Linked DNA regions of Homo sapiens: region 1 is reported to be linked to region 2. Evidence: microRNA targets listed by miRTarBase, many of them from high-throughput screens and not tested one by one. Region 2 holds a microRNA gene; the other region holds the end of a gene's coding sequence.

What was found. Region 2 holds the annotated microRNA hsa-miR-378g (ACUGGGCUUGGAGUCAGAAG, at 1,351-1,370, shown strand). A microRNA usually pairs through its seed, bases 2 to 8, with sites in the 3' UTR of a target mRNA and lowers its output. Matches are read on the target gene's strand: a 7mer-m8 pairs with bases 2 to 8, a 7mer-A1 pairs with bases 2 to 7 and ends in A, and an 8mer does both.
Region 1: the mRNA of MPPED1 is a reported target of hsa-miR-378g. Seed matches in the 3' UTR shown: 7mer-m8 at 1,399-1,405.

Annotation. Positions count from the first base shown.
Region 1 is chr22:43,505,227-43,509,622 of GRCh38, forward strand. It overlaps MPPED1 (metallophosphoesterase domain containing 1), which reads left to right. Exons shown (of 7, transcript NM_001044370.2): 7 at 272-2,622. The coding sequence ends at 390. Among named protein-coding and RNA genes, the nearest start is that of EFCAB6-AS1, 8.8 kb to the right of the region's middle.
Region 2 is chr1:94,742,854-94,747,249 of GRCh38, reverse strand. It overlaps MIR378G (microRNA 378g), which reads left to right and starts at 1,350; the gene lies at 1,350-1,390. The region is part of intron 1 of SLC44A3-AS1 (SLC44A3 antisense RNA 1); the gene reads left to right.

The DNA of each region.
Region 1 (4,396 bases), not on the chromosome of region 2:
TGATGACTCACTGCGTGCTTCTTATGTGCCAGGCACTGGGCCGAGCACAGTACATAGATAATTATCTCATATAATCCTCACAGCAGGCTTGGAAGTGGCATGTATCATTATCATCTCCATTTTACAGATGAAGGGACTGACCTCGAGAGTTTACCAGCTTGCCCCAAACACATTCAGCCCACAGGGGCTGAGTGCCCTATGACTGCCACACCCCCCTGGCCACCCTCACTACTCTGGCTGCTGGCCTGATGGGCATGTGCTTACTTTCCAGGGTATGGTGTCATGGCAGATGGGACGACCACCTATGTGAATGCGTCCGTATGCACTGTGAACTACCAGCCCGTGAACCCGCCCATAGTCATCGACCTCCCCACACCCCGGAACTCCTGACTGCTCCCCACTGCCCCTGCCCTGCCCGCCCGTGTCAGCTCCACAGGCCTGGCCCGGCCACTGTTCCTTCCATGCTGAGTTGCCTGGACGACCCATCTGGCTGCGGGGACTGGCCTAGCAGGCAGGTCAGGGCCTTGGAACGACTCTTTAGCCTTCTGTCACCTGGAGTTGGGACCCTGCGCATCCCCATCAGGGGTTCTGTGCTCATTTACTTTTTCTGCGTGTACATCCTGCGTGTACCTCGTTAAAGGACCTACTAAGCTCATGGCCCTGTCATGTTTGGGAAATGACTAAATCTTCATTCTTCTCCCTTGGACGCCCTCCTGGTTTGGGAAGCTGCTGCTCTTGAATGGGTTTTGGAAGTTACACAAAATCTCCCTCTAACCACGGGTCTGTGTGGCGGCATGCCCCTGGGTTGGGGTGGGTGGGAGGATTCGTGAGCTGCACACAGACAGTCCCTTTCTCTCCTCCCAAGTGAGGGAGGAGACAGGCCCAAGGCGGAGGCCCTCCGAGGGAGCATTTAGGGACATCTCAGGAATTCAGACCGCACCTGGCCAGGCCCACAGCTGTTTGCCTGGCATTGTTCCCCCCTTTTTCTTCCCATAGGCATTTTTGTTTACTTGAACAATGACCTGAGTGTCCTAGGCATTCACTCGGAGCCTGGATGATGGGGGCTGGTTCTACAGAATGAGCCACTGGCATTCGTGCCCAGGACCAGTGAGAGCGTTCCCAGTCATGGGGGGATGACCCTTGGTCCCACGGGGAACACACTGCTCTGTAGAATGCGGTAGCCTGGATGGAGGGTCTGCAGGCTTAGGCTGCAGCAGGCCTGCCATGGGTGTGAACCCATGTCCAGGCACGCACCGACACACATGCACGCACGCACCCCTCTTAATTGAACCAAGTGGGTCCTGTGTTTCTCTTTTCTGCCCCGTAGTGAGGTTCTGTTCCTTGGTGCGGCTTCCCTTGCACCGTTAGGATTCTGTCTGGCATGCCTGCAGCCGAGGAAGCCCAGGACCAGCCGGCCCTGTGAATTGGAGGGTGGCACAGGGACCGAGCGGGCCCCAGGCTCCAGCAGCCCCACCTTGGACAGCTTCTTTTTCTTCTTTGAATTAGGACTGGAGGGGGTGGGGCCAGGGCGGTGGTGGGAACCGGTAGGGCCTAGATGAGGGGCAGGCAGTCAGGCAGAAATGGGCAAGTTCAGGGTCAGATTCTGTCGTTATTTAATATTTTGTTCATCATGGACTTTTTCTGCATTTATTTTGATTTTTAACGTTGCATTAAAGTAGTATTATTTGTCCTGATTGGTGACTTTTTTTGCACCCCTTTCCGTTGTACATCTGAGAGAAGGGTGTCACTCCCTCACCCAGGTCCCAGCCCTGGGAACCAGCCTACCGTGAGCCCTTTTGCAGATATAGACTCATTTCATCCTCAGATGGTCCTTCAAGGTAGGTACTTTAGTCCCATTTTAGAGATGAGACGATTGAGGCCAGAGGGGTGTGGTAACTTGCCTGGGGGCTCACAGCACAAAAGGAGCCGAGGCAGGATCTGACCCTTGTTCTCTGGCCTCACTGCCCTCACTTTGCCATGACCCGAAGTTATGTCCCTACAAAGCAATGCATGGTCCAAGGCTCTTTTTATTGTATTTTTATTTTTAAGGGTCCTGTTCAAAACTGGTGTGAGCTCTGAGGAGTCCTGAACCCTGGGTGCAGCATCCTAGCATCCTGGGAGTCCTTTTCTGCCCACACTGAGCTGGGCTCCTCGAGGGGTGGGGCTGCTGTCCCTGGAAGCCTGGCAGCAGCACTGTATCGGGTTGGCTGAAGCTGAGCGCCGTGGGGTGCAGGGCTCCAGGAATCCCGTTTGGCTGAAGGGGTTCCTGTAGCCAGGGATGTTTATGAGGTCTCTCTGATGCCCCAGGCGCAGGACATGTGTGCGGGTGGAGAAAAGCAGGCCCTTTCAGTGCCAGCTCCACTCAATTTCTATGTGGACCAAGAACGATAAACTTAAAAAAATTTTTTTCCTAAGGTATCTTCAGAATATGGTGTATTTTTATGTGGAAAAGAAAAGTTATGAAGGCAGCTGTTACTTTAAGAGAAAATTCATTAAAAGTCCTCGAGGTATGAAGATGACGGCGTGCTTCTCAATCATTTTGGCATAACTTGATTGTGGCTGTAATTTTTTTTTTTTTTTTTGTCAAGCATGTCAGACAATAAAGTCTTTGTAAAAAGAGAAGTCCACGCGGCACCTCTTCCTTCCACATCTCTGGCTGTTGTCTGGGACACATGGTGGCAGCGTGGTGTCCTCTTGCAGAATGCTGAGGCCTGGACAGAGCTTGGATGCCAAAGACCTCCTGTGTGGCAGCAGTCGGTGTCCCTCTGCTTGCTTTAACCTCCCCTGGGGTGGGGGGATCCCAGAGGTGGTGGTGTGGGCAGTTCTGGGTCCTCTTTTGTACAAATACTTGGCTGCCTGGTCTCCCAAAACAGAACACCTCCAGAGGCCTTAGCGCTGGACTCTTCCTGGAAATGGCATGTTCAGCCCAGCCCCTGTGAAACACAGGGTCCAGACATTGCCCAGGAGAAACACTGGCAGGTACAACGACCCTAGTCTGAAAGCCCCCAAGCTGCAAAAGTTCTGTCATTTTTATCCATCTGTCCGTCCATCCCTCTATATACCATCCACCCCTCCTTCCAACATCCATCCATCCATCCATCCCCCATCCTTCCATCTATCCATCCCCCATCCCTCCATCTATCCATCCCCATCTATCCATCCATCCATCCATCCATCCATCCCCCATCCATCCATGCCCCATCTATCCATTCATCCATCCCCCCTCTGTCATCCATCCATCCCCCATCTGTCCATCCATCCATCCTTCCATCTATCCATCCCCCATCCATCTATCCATCCATCTCCCATCCATCCATCCATCCATCTCCCATCCATCCATCCCTCCCTCCACCCATCCATCCCCCATCTATCCATCCATCCCCCATCCATCCATCCCTCCCTCCATCCATCATCCATCCATCCCTCCCTCCATCTATCCATCATCCATGCATTCATCCATCCATCCCCCATCCTTCCATCCTTCCCTCCCTCCCTCTCTCTATCCATCCATCCCTCCATCTATTGATCCCCCATCCATCCATCCCCATCTATCCCTCCATCCATTCCCCATCTATCATCCATCCATCCCCCATCCCTCCATCCATCCATCCCCCATCTATCCATCCATCCCCTCATCCATCCATCCCCCATCTATCCATCCATCCATCATCCATCCCCCATCTATCATCCATCCATCCCCCATCCCTCCATCCCCATCTATCCATCCCTCCATCTATCCATCCCCCATCCATCCATCTATCCATCCATCCCCCATCCATCCATCCATCCATCCATCCTCCATCCATCCATCCGTCCCCCACCTATCCATCCATCCCCCATCCATCTATCCATCCCTCCCTCCACCCATCCCTCCCTCCATCCATTCGTCCTCCATCTATCCATCTAACCATCCATCCGCCATCCGTCCATCCCTCCCTCCCTCCGTCCATCATCCATCCATCCATCTCTCCCTCCATCCATCCATCCCCCATCCACCCATCCATCCCCCATCCATCCATCCATCCCTCCATCTATCCATCCCCCATCCATCCATCCTCCATCTATCCGTCCATCCATTCCCCATCTATCATCCATCCATCCCCCAACTGTCCATCCATCCATCCCTCCATCTGTCCATCCCCCCATCCACCCATCTATCCATCCATCCCCCATCTACCCATCCATCCCCCATCCATCTATCCATCCCTCCATCCATCCATCCCTCCCTCCGTCCATCCATACCCCAGCTATCCATCCATCCCCCATCCAGACATTTATCCATCCTTCATTCATCCTTCCATCCATCCATTCACCCCCATCTATCCATCCATCTCTCATCCATCTCTCCATCCTTTCGTTCATCCCCCCATCCATCATCCCTCTATTCACCCCCCAT
Region 2 (4,396 bases):
GGACTGGGTGGCCCGATGTCTACCCAGACAGGCAGTCAACATACCCTGGGGCTTACTGTAGAATCTTGAGCCCTTGAGATAAACCTGCCGCCCTGCCCCACATGTGCTGGACAGCATTCCTCCTCCTCAAACCCTAACCCCAGCGGGCTGCTTCTTTCCGTGACCCTGGGGTCACTGTGGCTTAAGTCTTGCAAGGCTGGAACCAGACAGCAGGGCAGGCTGTTTCATAAGTGTTCCTTGGTCTGTCCAAGTTTGTACTTCCTTTAAAAGATCTTTCAGTTGTTATTTTTTGTTTTCCCCCTTCTTTTCATTAACTTGAAAACAGCAAATCATATTTTGCCAAGGGAGAAAAACCCTCCCTCACCCAAGAGATTCCTTCTTAATTCAGCCCTTAGTAAACATTGTTTCTGATTGGATTTCTAGCCCGGCCTGGCACTGGTTCTACCAATGAGATCACTAACAGAATTTGAGAAAAACATTTGGGACCTGTGGCCTTGATTTGAAAAATCACCCTGTCTCTGTTCTGTTGTATTGCAGATGAGGAGACAAGAGATGCTTACGGTGTGTGTGTACAGAAGGGCACACCTATTGTTTACAGGTGTTGAAATAGAATGTCAACTGTCATGACAAGGAGGGCCTTAACCAGCAGGCCACTGCATCACCATGTTGAATGAACTCAACTCCAAACATGTTAATGTAATATGAAACATACCGATGGTGATCGGGCCCCAACTTTCTCTCTTACTTCCTCTCCTGCCTATATGCCTATCCTTTCCTCAATAATTGGCCAAATTGCTTCAAATTATTGCCTTTAGCAATGCTACTTACATGTCTCCAAGAATTCTGGTTAAAAGGAGTGGGTACCATGGGATGGATTTCTCATTAACTGATTAGTACCCATCTTAGCAGGACTTGCTTTATCTCATAGTCTAGCAGAGAACTATAGAGTGGAGGTGGGATGGGACTAAAACAAGAAGATTTTGATGGAGAGGGGAGGTGAAGCAAAGAACCTGATGTGAGCAGAGTCTAGGGAAGTAAGCAGGAAGGTGAGTGACCCAGGAAGAGCAGATGTAAGGATTGAATGACAGGGTGAACATGGTGGCAAGTGTGAGCATTTTCTGCCTTGTCTCACCCAAGGGTATCTCCCCAGTAGGTATTTAGACTATTCCTCCACTCACCCTTGTAGCCTACCAAGAGCAACATGATGAAGGGCTTCTTGGCCACTGCTCAAGGGCTACTTCCTATTAGATAAAACAAGGAAACAACAGAGGTAAAACCTGCTGGCTTCCAGGTACAGCCCAGGCTCATATCCAGGAGTCCTTGGCTAGACTTTTGTGTGGCAGATAGGGCACTGGGCTTGGAGTCAGAAGACCTGGCTCCAGCCCAGCTCTGCCATGGACCAGCTATGAGATCTTCAGGCAGCCTCAGTCCCTTCATCTGTCTAATGACATCAGGCTTCTGCATCCTCCCTTTGGGAGACCTCACATACTTCTGTGACACCATCTACAGCTACTATGCCAGAGTCCCCTAAATCCATATCACCAAGCCAGACCTCTCCCTTGAGTTGCCGAGCCCTGAACCCAAACTTCCCCAAACATCTCTGTTTGGGATTTATATGTCCCTAGAACTCAGCATGCCCAATCAATCGTTCACTTTCTTCCCAAACCTGTTCCTCTTCCTCATCCTACTTAGGTGAATGGCACCATCATCTACTCATGGGCCCAAACAGAAATCTGGATGTTTGCCCCAGCTTCCCCTACACCATTCACAGTCATCCAGTCACAAGTCCTGTATGTCCTCTTAAATATATCCTGAACCATCCCTACTCCCCATCCCCATTCCCACTGCTCTGAATGAAAATCTCTTCTCTCTCCTGGACCACTCAGGATCTTCCTGGCTTATTCCCTCAGTCCAGCATCTGCACTGGCTGATTACTCTTTTTTTTTTTTTTTGAGATGGAGTCTCGCTCTATCCCCCAGGCTGGAGTGCAGTGATGTAATCTTGGCTCACTGCAACCTCCTCCTTCCAGGTTCAAGTGATTATCCTGCCTCAGCCTCCTGAGTAGCTGGGATTACAGGTGTGTGCTACCACGCCTGGCTAATTTTTGTATTTCTAGTAGAGACGAGATTTCACCATATTGGCCAGGCTGGTCTTGAACTCCTGAACTCAAGTGATCAGCCCGCCTTGGCCTCCCAAAGTCCTGGGATTACAGGTGTGAGCCACTGCACCTACCCATTCTGATTACTCTTTCTAAACTGCACAGCTCATTCATGTACCTGCCTTACTTAAAACCCTTAGCAATTACCTATTTATTTCCCTAGGGTAAAAATCCAAATTTCCTTACCATGTCCTGAAATATACTCACCTGTGATCTGGCCCCGAGTTCCTCTCTGGATTTATCTCCTGTCCACCTCCCCTCCCACACTTCACACTCTACTTCAAGCCATACTCAGCTGCTCAAAGCACCACACTTGGGCCACGCTTTCTCTTTTATAACTTGAATGCCCTCCTGCTTGCCTGGCATTCCTTTGGTCCCCTTCTTTGCCTGCTCAGCTCTGACTCCCATCAGGAATGAGACCATATTCCTCAGGAAACCTCCCTGGTTCTCCTGAGCCAGAATGGACTCCCTCTGTGCTCTCTTAAGTTGTGGTGCCCTCCTGCCATGGCAGCTAGGCCGGGGCATTGCCTGTTTCCCTTGGTGTTCTGTGAGCTCCTCAAGTGTGGGCAGCACATCTTAGCTTGTTCTGTCTCCCCAGGGTCTGGCATGGTACCTAGCCCTTGATTAGTGCTTGCTGAATAAATGAATGATTGAGTCTCTGTCATCTCACAGAGTACTTGCAAGAATTAAATGACATGTGAAAATACTTTGTAAACTGTAAATGTGTTAGGGACATTTCTGAGAGTCAAGGGGTTTAGAGAGGAAATGAGCATGCTAGGCCTCTGGACAGTGAACCGAAAGGATGTTGAGCTGTGGTGTTCTAGGAGAGTACCAGGACTGCTCTGGACATGACATACTACCTGGGACTACTTGTGAAAGGAAATGAGCATCCTGAGAAATCACTTTGGGTCCTGTGTACTCAGGGAGGATTGTTTTTATATGGTTCTGGTTTGTTCAGGAAGCACAGTCTGTCCTCCAGTCAGGCACTCAGTGAGCAAATGCATTTGTAGCTTGAGGCCAGAGCTTCCTTATGTTTATATGACTCTTTATTAGGTGAAACATGCAGCCTCTTGGAACAATAAACTGTCTTTGTTACAGATGTACACTAGATTTTGATGGCATTTTTCCAGGGACCCTGGGAGCATCTGTGTTCTCGTGTTCTTCTTGCCTGTGAGGCCTCTTCTCTCTGAGGACAGATGGTAGGACAGAGAGAAGACAGCAAATGGAAAACAAAGGCTGCTATTTTTTTGTGGGGTGTGTACAATATCTATTCTACATCTCTGCCCATCCCCATTTTCTCCTCCTCCAGAGAGCATACAATTAAGGCTATAAACTGAAGTGGAGCCCCCATTATTTACCCCTAAAAATGAATACAGATCTCAGCCTCTCATTACCCCTTGGTTAGAAAGAGAGAGCATTTTGGTCTGTTTGGGCGACTATAACAAACATACCTTAAACTGGGTGGCTTTTAAACAACAGAAATTTGTTGCTCACAGTTCTGAAGACTGGTAAGTTCAAGATCAAAGCACCAGCAGATTTGGTGTCTGGTGAGGGCCCACTTCCTGGATCATAGATGATGCCTTCTTGCTGTGTCCTCACATAGTAGAAGGGCAAGGCAGCTCTCTGGACCCCTTTCTTTCCTTTTCTTTTCTTTTCTTTTTTCTTTTCTTTTCTTCTCTTTCCATTAATCCGGTCCATGAGGGCTCCATCCTTATAACCTAATCACTTCTCAAAGGTCCCATCTCCTAATACTATCGAGTTGGTAATTAGGATTCAACATATTAATCTGTGGAGGAAGGGGACACAAAAATTCAGACCATAGCTGGTAGTGATGAAGATAGAATGAGCCAGGTCCCAATGTGGGGCCAGGTGTGAGGGGGGCAGTAGCTGGTCATGGACATGTGGATGTTTGCTGAGTGATGGGTGAGCAAGTCCCTGCCATCTCATAGGGACACTGTAAAAACTGCCCTCTTGATGACCTTAGCAGTGCAATCATATTAGCAATGACATCCACCTTGAGGAGGGAAAAGATGGGTGTGAACAAGAAGGATAGTTTCTTTCTCCTTACAGCATCCATTATGTAGCATAAAAATTAGGGCCCCCATGTATCCAGGAAAGCAGTCAGAGCATTCATTATTCAATAACCATAGGTGCTTATTCCATACTGTTATGGACTGAATCGTGTCACCTCCAAATTCATATGTTGAAGCCCTAACTACCAATATGACTGTATTTGGA